Regions from separate parts of the Homo sapiens genome. Here region 2 is linked to region 1. The links come from fine-mapping of genetic effects on gene expression. A gene starts in region 1. The other region holds a variant in brackets. All regions are shown on one strand. Distances are from middle to middle.

The links. PIP is the estimated chance that this variant, and not a neighbour inherited with it, causes the effect.
Region 2: its variant is fine-mapped to the expression of GPR141 in whole blood (INTERVAL, PIP above 0.99).

The regions. Positions count from the first base shown.
Region 1 is chr7:37,681,378-37,686,767 of GRCh38, reverse strand. GPR141 (G protein-coupled receptor 141) reads right to left here and starts at 3,002. Exons shown (of 3, transcript NM_001381946.1): 1 at 2,865-3,002; 2 at 1,185-1,308. RefSeq lists an enhancer at 4,940-4,999.
Region 2 is chr7:37,646,917-37,652,306 of GRCh38, reverse strand. No RefSeq gene overlaps it. Among named protein-coding and RNA genes, the nearest start is that of GPR141, 34 kb to the left of the region's middle. The variant G/A (reference allele first, on the strand shown) is at 2,740.

The DNA of each region.
Region 1 (5,390 bases):
AAATCACAGTTACATCCAATTTTGAAAAGAGAAGCCATCTTTGGACTTAGCAACTACTGCTTTTAGACCATCTGGAGTTCCAAGCCTTCACTATCTATGGTACGTAATCTCCATGATAATACCTTCATCATTTCATTCACTTATTCACTCATATAACCATTCCAAAGATGCTGGGTACTTATTATGGGTCAAACCCTGTTCTAAAATATAAAGGTAGCAAAGGCATAGTTCCTGCCCTTAAGGAAATTATGTTTTTAGGAAACAGACTATGCTTAGATTAAGTTTGATTATGACTGTCACGAATAATAACATTGTCATTCAAAATAAGATGGGACAATAACATAATTTGGAAAATACTTTGGTATAACGTATGAACTAGCTTTGAAAACACTTTGCAAAGCAATGTCTCAGAAATCTTTGATCAATTGAAAATTGTTTTCAATGTTATTACTTTGAAAGACAGCACAGACTTGCACATATTCTAACTTCTTTAAAATATTTTTAGTCTGAGTCTGAGTCAGGAAGACTGCTTGAGCCCAGGGATTTGAGACCAGCCTTGGCAACATAGTGAGACCCCCTCTCTAAAGAAAAAAAAAAAAAAAAAAGGCAGGCAGGGTGGCTCACACCTGCACTCCCAGCTATTCGGAAGGCTGAAGTGAGAGGACCACTTGATTCCAGGAGGTGAAGGCTTCAGTGAGCTGTGATTGTGCCACTGCACTCCTGCCTTGGAGACAGAGCGAGGCCCTGTCCCAAAAATATATTTTTTAACATATTATTTAACAATATATTTAACACATTATTTTAGTCACAACATGCTACGTCTCTTATAGTGCTAGCACAATGGCTTACCCATAGTAGACACCAGTAAACATTTCACAGGCTCATTGATTTTAAATTTGGAAAGCACTTTTAGAAATTAGCTAGACCTGTGGTCCTTAACTACAATTGGATTTTGGACCACTTTGAAAATCAATCCGTGTTTTTCTTATTTAAAAAAAAAAAAAAAAAAAAAAAAGTGCTGCCAGGCACAGTGGCTCATGTTTGTTATCCCAGTACTCTGAAAAGCCAAGGCAGGAGGATCACTTGTGCCCAGGAGTTTGAGACTAACCTGGGCAACATGAGCAAGACCCTGTCTCTATTTAAAAAAAAAAATTAATTAATTAGCCAGGTGTGGTGGCAAGTACCTGTAGTCTCAGCTACTGAGGAGGCTGAGATGAAAGGATCACTTGAGCCCCGGAGGTCGATGCTGCAGTCAGTGAGCCATGATTGAGTCGCTAAACTCCAGCCTGGGCAACAGAGAGAAAGGCCCTGAAGAAAGAAAGAGAGAAAGAGAGAGAGAGATGGAGGGAGGGAGGGAGGGAAGAAGGCAGGAAGGCAGGCAGGCAGGCAGGCAGGCAGGCAGGAAGGAAGGAGGGAGGGAGAGAAACACACACACGCACAAAAGGAAGAAAAGAAAAACACACACTTACATTTTTGCATGCAATTTCAGAGGATTGGTGTATCAATCTAAAGACCATCCAGGAACTCCCTTAGCTGAGCATCTCTTATCCAGTCTACAACTTCCATTTTATAATTGTTGAAAATCATTGCTAGAAGAATAGTTGGAAAATTGTGTCACCTAAGCCAAAGCTGGCTCACTTCTTGTTTTTATACAGCCTGTGAGCTACGAATGGTTTTTATAGTTTTAAATGGTTATGTAAGTACCAATATATTAGCCTCAGTTCTACCTCTTGGCTTGCAAAGCCTAAAATATTTACTATCAAGGCTTTTGTAGAAAAAGTTTGCCAACCCCTGGTCTGGAATCCTTAGACAATATTCCCCCAAATTATGCAGCCAATTACTAGAAAACAGAGGACTAGAATTCACACCACCTGATTCCTCATCCATTGGTCTTCCCATTACTTCTATTGACTGATTAAAATCCTAATTAACTGATTTAAACCCAATAAAACAGAAAACAAAGACATGTAATTCTGGAGTACTTAATAAGTAATTTCTCAGATAAGTAATTGTGCAGTTATGTAGAACGCTGAAGTCCAGAGAATTAAGTGACCTATCAAAAGTCATATAACAAATTTGTAAAAGAAACAAAATTAAATGCCTATATTCAGGTTAGGCATTACTGACTTATTGTTTAAAAACTTTGCATTATATTTCATTCCACATATTTGAAAAATATTACTTCTTGGAAGTAGAAAATACTGGTATAGAAAGTATTTTACTTAAAGTAAAATTATTTGAACAGATGTTGTTCTTTTTATTTATCTTATTTAAGAAGTTATTTTCAGATCCTTCCTGTTAAGTAGTACTTTAAAAGTGGGATGGAAAGAATTATAATTACCATTATTTCACATGTTATTTTGAATATACTTCTTTTAGAAATTTCTAAGTACTTGATTGCTTACAGATTGTTTCCTTCTATTGACTAGGGCTGCCTGAATAGTTTCAAACTCTATCTGAAAATAATGCAGTAATAGAGTTAAAGGATTTTCATAACAAAAGGAAATTAAGACATCACTTAAAAGATAAGCATTTGAATAATTATACACAAATTCAATAGTGCCAACTGCTCTAAAAAATTCTATGATATGTTTAGCTGGTTTTTTGACAGAGAGATTCTGAAATCATTTTTGTTCACATTTACCCATAAATATTAGGTTTTACTTTCAGAGCAGCATATCCTAAGCAGTAAGAATAGAACAATTCTTTCTATAAAGGAGGAGTTGTGGTCAGAGAATAAGCTTGCTTTTTAGAGCAGAACCATTTGAAGATTCTGAATTAGGACTATGCCAACAAATTAAGTGTGCTTTATTTCTATAGCACTTTCATTCATGTCTCCCCAAACCTAAGTCATCTGCACTTACCTTGAAAATCCAGATTTCTCAGTGATGGCTACAGAGATGGGCCACATGTCTGCCTTCCAAATAGGATTCTGTTTCAACAGCAGGGCAGCTGGGTCATTTCCATGCTCTGCATGCATTTGCAAAGGCTCTGGACAGCTCACCAAGCAAAAGGAAGTGAATGTGTTCTAAGTTCCTCAGAATGTCAACAGACCATAAAACCTCAAAACCATTTGAAACACAATAGTCTTGAAAAACCAAGCTCTTAAACATGAGTAGTCCAGGTTGCAAACTACAGAGAGGCCAATTGTCAAGAAATATTTATGAAGGATTGATGACTACGATGAATCAAGTTTTTAAAATGTTCTTCAAACTAAATTTTGTAGAGAATGGGGAACAAAGTGGTATTATCAAAAACAAAAAGGGAAGGTAAACTGTGTATTGTTCTTCTGGTGAAGGAATATGTGTAATATTTCCTTTCAGTAAGGAGAAAATTTCCAGAGTTGCTCTATACCTCACTGGTAACTTAGGGCTCCCACTTTTATAATTGTGTTAATTAGCTGTCACTGATAAATGGCATTGACTGGGATATGGCACTATAATTATGTCATTTAATTAGAATTAAGAGAGAAAATATTTAAAATCAGAGTGTGCTATAGGGGCAGGGGAGGGGAGTAAATCGTCACAGCTTAACTTTTTAGACTGTCAACATTATCTCCAGAAGAAGCTGCCCATACAGTCATAGAGATGCACTGCAAGTATTGAGAAAAAAAAACATCAGTTCCTCAAACTGCTTGAACTTTCCTACCATTTGATGACCACTCTATAAATTAGGATTTTATAAACTTTCTAATTATGTAAATCGGTGGTCCCCAACCTTTTTTGGCACCAGGGAAAGGTTTCATGGAAGACAATTTTTCCACAGACAGGGGTGGGGATGTTTTCTGGATGATTCAAGCACATTACATTTATTGCGCACTTTATTTCAATTGTTATTACATGATAATATATAATGAAATAATTATACAACTCATCATAATGTAGAATCAGTGGAAGCCCTGAGGTTGTTTTTCTGCAACTAGATGGTCCCATTTGGGGGTGATGGAAGACAATGATAGATCATCAGACATTAGATTCTCATAAGGAACACTGCAACCTAGATCCCTAGCATGGACAATTCAACAATAAGGTTCATGCTCCCATGAGAATCTAATGCCGCTGCTGATCTAACAGGAGGTGGAGCTCAGGCAGTAATGCAAGTGATGGGGAGCAGCTGTAAATATAGACGAAACTTTGCTGGCCCACTCGTGCACTGCTCCGCTCCTTCTGTACAGCCCAGTTCCTAACAGGCCACGAACCACTGCTGGTCTGTGGCCCAGGGGTTGAGAACTCCTGATGTAGACAGCATGTTAATATTATATAGAAATTGGTCAATTAAAAAGTACTAATTTATTAAATATCAACATTTTCAACATTCCCCTATTTTTAAAATCCATTGTGACATTTCACTATTTCAAAAAGAAATTTTAAAAGGCATCAAAATGATACTGGCCCTGGGTTCTTTCTATTTTAAGGTCCCTAAGTAGAATGATAACTTTGGTAATTTGGGGTGATTCCTGGTATTCTTTACAGTGCTAAAACACTCATTATTTTAGGCGAAATTTTTGCAGTTCTGTTTTCATCAGTATTCACATTTCTTACTCCAAACATAATGTTCTAAGTGCTTCCAACTTTGTTTCTTAGTTTGAAGAGAAGGCCTCTGCATCAGGAAACTCTTCAATTTCAGCAGATGTGCGTTCTTTCTGCCATATGAGTTAAAATGCTATCTGCTTCAAAATAACTCATGCTAGAGATATTTCAAGCTTTATTAGTTGTAGAGAAGATTGTTGCTGACAAACCCTCCTGCTGAGAGCAGCTTACAAAAATGAACAGAATGCAAAACCTATAAGTTTGAAGGCTTCAGAAAGCTGCCCAGGCAATGACACCTTGAAGAAATAAAATCCCCAGAAGACAGGAAGTACAAATCAGTGAATCTGATTTTCAACTCCTGAGTACTTTTTACTCAAGGCACTGCTGATTTGAAACTGGACACTGAGAGGTGAAGAAACAGGTGAAATACAGTGGCTAAGATGCTCAGAAGTTAAGGAAATCTAGTTTAAGAAGCAAACAGAGACCACCAAGGAGGTGGTGCCCTTATAATTACCTCAAATTTTCAGTTAGGACCCCTGAAGGGCTACACCCTAGGAGACAGCATGTGCTAAAAATATTGTACCATCACAAAGTGGGAGCCCAATTTCAAATCACCTAAATTGCTGAATTAGGTAGACAATCACTGAATAGATAGGAGATTTGCCATCGTCATAACGACCTCCTCACACACATCAAGCAAAAGTAAATACTCTCTGGAGGACGATAACACTAACCAGATCAATGAATTGACTCTCAAACTTTTTAAACACAATGTCCAAATTTCAATAACTATTAAAAGCCATGTCTGAAGATAAGTCTAGAAAAACAGACCATGAAAATAAACAGAAAATAGAAACAAAT
Region 2 (5,390 bases), 34 kb after region 1:
TACACCTTATACAAAAATTAATTCAAGATGGATTAAAGACTTCAATGTTAGACCTAAAACCATAAAAACCCTAGAAGAAAACCTAGGCAATACCATTCAGGACATAGGCGTGGGCAAGGACTTCATGTCTAAAACACCAAAAGCAATGGCAACAAAAGCCAAAATTGACAAATGGGATCTAATTAAACTAAAGAGCTTCTGCACAGCAAAAGAAACTACCATCAGACTAAACAGGCAACCTACAGAATGGGAGAAAATCTTTGCAATCTACTCATCTGACCATCTGACAAAGGGCTAATATCCAGAATATACAAGGAACTCAAACAAATTTACAAGAAAAAAACAACCCCATCAAAAAGTGGGCAAAGGATATGAACAGACACTTCTCAAAAGAAGACATTTATGCAGCCAAGAGACACATGAAAAAATGTTCATCATCACTGGCCATCAGAGAAATGCAAATCAAAACCACAATGAGATACCATCTCATACCAGTTAGAATGGCGGTCATTAAAAAGTCAGGAAACAACAAGTGCTGGACAGGATGCAGAGAAATAGGTACATTTTTACACTGTTGGTGGGACCATAAACTAGTTCAACCATTGTGGAAGACAGTGTGGCGATTCCTCAAGTATCTAGAACTAGAAATACCATTTGACCCAGCCATCCCATTACTGGGTATATACCCAAAGGATTATAAATCATGCTACTGTAAAGACACATGCACACATATATTTATGGCAGCACTATTCACAATAGCCAAGACTTGGAACCAACCCAAATGTCCATCAATCATAGACTGGATTAACAAAAATGTAGCATATATACACCATGGAATACTGTGCAGCCATAAAAAAGGATGAGTTCATGTCCTTCGTAGGGACATGGATGAAGCTGGAAACCATCATTCTCAGCAAACTATCACAAGGACAAAAAACCGAACACCACATGTTCTCACTCATAGGTGGGAATTGAACAATGAGAACACTTGGACACAGGAAGGGGAACATCACACACCGGGGCCTGCTGTGGGGTTGGAGCGGGGAGGGATAGCATTAGGAGATATACCTAATGTAAATGACGAGTTAATGGGTGCAGCACACCAACATGGCACATGTACACATATGTAACAAACCGGCACATTACGCACATGTACCATAGAACTTAAAGTATAATAAAAGAATAATAAAATTTAAAAAATAGTTGTGTAATCACTTACAGTGTATGAACAGAATATTTACAGCATTATAAAATATTTTTATAGTTTTAGTTTGTAGAGTTTACTAAGCTTACTTTTTAGACATTAATGCAGTTTAAATCGTGGAATAATTCTTTACAACAATAGGATGCATTTCAAATTTGACATAAGAAAGTCCTAATTTCACAAATACTTTTAAAAATCGCTTTTAATTTTTACTTGTGTCTAGACTTGAGGCTTTTTGTTAATTCTGCTCTAGAAAATGTTGGATTAGGAACCCCTTTTCTTCACTCCAGATACATACATAAAATTTTAATTATAAAATGTGCTATGGCTTTAAAGTGAAATCTAAGGTAATATGACTTTAAATGGGTTGCATGGTAACATATACTTGGTGGGCTTTTTTGTACTGTTTAGAAATTTGAGTTCAATAAACAATGTACCGTTCTGTATGTCAAAAAAAAAAAAAAAAAGAAGGGTGGTTGTCAGGCGCTGGGGAAAGGGGGAAACAAGGAGGTATTAGTCAAAGGGTACAAAGTTTCAGTTAGGCAAGATAAATAAATCCTAGAGATCTACAGTACAACATAGTGCCCATATAGTTAATAATATTAATAATATTTTATTATATATTCAAAATTGCTAAGAGGGTATTTTGTTGTGTTCTTATTATACACATACAATAATAATAATAACAGAGAGGGGGAGGAGGAAACATTTGGAGGTAATGGATATATTCATGGCATAGATTGTATTGATTCTTTCATAGGTGTATGCTTACCTCCAAACTTGTCAAGTTGTCTACATTAAGTATGTATAGCTTTTTGTAAGTCAAAACACAAACAAATAAAAACACTGCTGATGACAAAAGAAAAGGAAAGGAAGGAAGGAAGGAAATAAGGAACGAAGGAAGGACGGAAGGAAGGGCGTATTCTACTCTTCCTTGTTTATTAAAGGTTATTTTTCAGAAAGCGATGTAAAAATTGTATCAGTTATTTTAATATCACTGATACAAGTGGTCACTTTTTAAAATTTTTTCCTTTGAGCTGGGTGTGATGGCTCACACCTGTAATCCTAGAATTTTGAGAGGCCAAGGTGGGCAGAGCCCCTGAGTCCAGGAGTTCAAGAGGAGCCTAGGTAACATGGATAAACTCTATCTCTACACAAACAAACAAAAAAAATTAGCACAGCATGGTGATGCACACGTGTAATCCCAGCTACTACAGAGGCTGAGGTGAGGTGGAAGGATCCCCTGAGCCCAGGAGGTCAAGGCTGCAGTGAGCCGTGATTGCACCACTGCACTCCACCCTGGGTGACAGAGTGAGACCCTGTCTAAAAATATTAAATTAAATTAAGAAATAATTTTTTTTTGCTTTGAAGTAATTGTAGATCCTCAGAAACTTATACAAATAGTACAGAGGGTTATATCATTTTTACCAGTTAGTATTATTGATCTAATAAATTTCCGTGATAGATTTCCAAATGTTGAACTATTTCCTGCATTCTTGGAAAAAAGTCTACTTGGTCATCGTCTACTTTTCTTT[G/A]TAATATGCCACTGGATCCTACTTGCTAAATATTTTGTGTAGTACTTTGGCATCAATATTCTCAAGTAAGATTCATCTTTTTTAAGCAATTATTAGGTGTAGATATCAATTATGCTCTCATCTTCAAAAGAATTTATAGACTTATCTTCCTTTTCTATGTTTGAAGCACTGAAATTACTTAATTTTTCAAGGTTTGGTAGAAGTGTCTCAACTTGCTTTGTTTGCTTTTATCGTTGCTTGTTTGTTTTTGTGGGGAGTCGGTAGCTTTTAGATAAATTTCTCTATTTCTTCTAAGATAACTGAGCTATTTAGATTTCTTTATATCTGTTTAGAGTTACTTTTGATAAATTATATTTTCCTGGAAAATTATTCATTTCATCTAGCTTTTCCAAACTTATTAACATAGGCTAGAGTAAATTAGCTCTTCATGATCCTTTTAATTTTCTCTGATTCTATAGTTATTTTCTCATCCTTGCTTATTTTTGCCTATTTGTGCCTTTTGTCTTCTTAATTAGGGTAGCTAATGATTCATTTTCTTTTCAACAAGCAGTACTGAGAACTTTTAATTAATTCTGTCACTTTTCTCTTTTATAATTTATTTTAAATTTTTATCTCTATTATTCCCAATCTAACTTCTTGAATTATATGACTAATTTATTGACTTTCATTATTTACTAGTAGAATGCCTAATGCTGGCCGGGCACAGTGGCTCACGCCTGTAATCCCAGCACTTTGGGAGGCCGAGGCGGGCAGATCACGAGGTCAGGAAATCGAGACCATCCTGGCTAACACGGTGAAACTCCGTCTCTATTAAAAATACAAAAATAAAATCAGCCGGGCGTGGTGGCGGGCGCCTGTAGTCCCAGTTACTCGGGAGGCTGAGGCAGGAGAATGGCGTGAACCTGGGAGGCGGAGCTTGCAGTGAGCCGAGATCGTGCCACTGCACTCCAGCCTGGGTGACAGAGCGAGACTCCCTCTCCAAAAAAAAAAAAAAAAAAAAAAAAAAAGAATGCCTAATGCTATGCATGTTTCTCTGTGTGCTGCCTTCATGTCTAGATTGTTCTGCCATCTCATTTTAATTTCTTCTATACCATGAGTTAGTTAAGAAAATTTTTTTATTTCCAAGCAGTAAGGAATTTCTGATTTTATACTTAGTTTGCATTTACTATCATTTTTCATATTTTATTTTCAACTTTATAAATCACTTTGTGTTAAAATGTCTGAAATATACCATACAGAGTTGATTTTTGCTTGGTGATCCTATACAACAATTTCTTTCTTTTAAAGCATGTATATGTAAATATAATTTGCATTTATCAGTATGATAGTTATGTTAGGATTTAGCTCTCCTTTGTGACATACTTTCTGCTTTTATAATTCTGTTTTTAAATCTGAGACTATTGGGCTCTTTGTTTTGTTTGAGAGTATGTGCTTCTTCTGATAATTGGAAAGCCTGTATTTTTCTTCTAATGGTTACTTTGTGGCTTTTTATAATATCAGTAATAGTCTGAATCTTCTATTTCATAATAATATAATATCAGGAAACTTTTGTTGGTCTGATTTTGATAATTCCCCACTCTGAGCAATGACTAATTGAGAAAGTACCCCCTTTCTCCTTACCTATCTCCTCTGTCACAACAGTTTGGTTTTTGCCTTCTCATTATGTGTTTTGTGTTGTTAAATATACATATTCCTCTACTACTTGGTTTATTTATTTAAAATGATGTCTTTTGGTTCCTGGGAATGAAAAGATAGATAAGACCATCAAGAAATTTTGAGCACCTACCAATGCTTTTTTTTTTTTTTTTTTTTTTTTTTTTTTGAGATGGAGTCTCGCTCTTTCGCCCAGGCTGGAGTGCAGTGGTGCGATCTCGGCTCACTGCAAGCTCCGCCTCCTGGGTTCACGCCGTTTTCCTGCCTCAGCCTCCCAAGTAGCTGGGACTACAGGCGCCCGCCACGACGCCTGGCTAATTTTTTGTATTTTTAGTAAAGACGGGGTTTCACCGTGTTAGCCAGGATGGTCTCGATCTCCTGACCTCGTGATCCGCCTGCCTCGGCCTCCCAAAGTGCTGGGATTACAGGCGTGAGCCACCACACCCGGCCTAGAACACCTGCTAATTCTTATTAGTAACATCATATTAATATTGTCAGAGTTTATAACATTTACATGTCTTTAACCATACTGTTTCCATTTATCTCTTAATTCGTTGACAATCTCAAGTAGTGTCTTCAAGAAGACACAGGGATAATATTTATAGGAACAACATTCCCTGGACATTTGCATGTTTTTAACCACATCTTTCTCCACTTCACATTGGCATGGCAGTTTGACTTGGCTTTAAAAAAATATTTTCTCACTTTCTTTCCATAAGGACTTTTTCCCTGAGGATATTTTGACCGATTTAGAAGGTTGTGTTGTATCTGAGACAACCCGACTTGCTTGTTTGTTTGTTTAATTATAAGTTAGTAGATCCTTTTAGTCTGGCTCACCTAAAGATTTTTTTCCTTGGAAACCTAATAGGTCTACTGAAATCATTCTCCATTTTGACACATCTCTATTTTTCCTAGATCATTATATGCCTTATCAAGCATAGATTCAAGTTACCTTCTATATTTTGGAATATTACCTTGAATCATATTGTAGAATATCT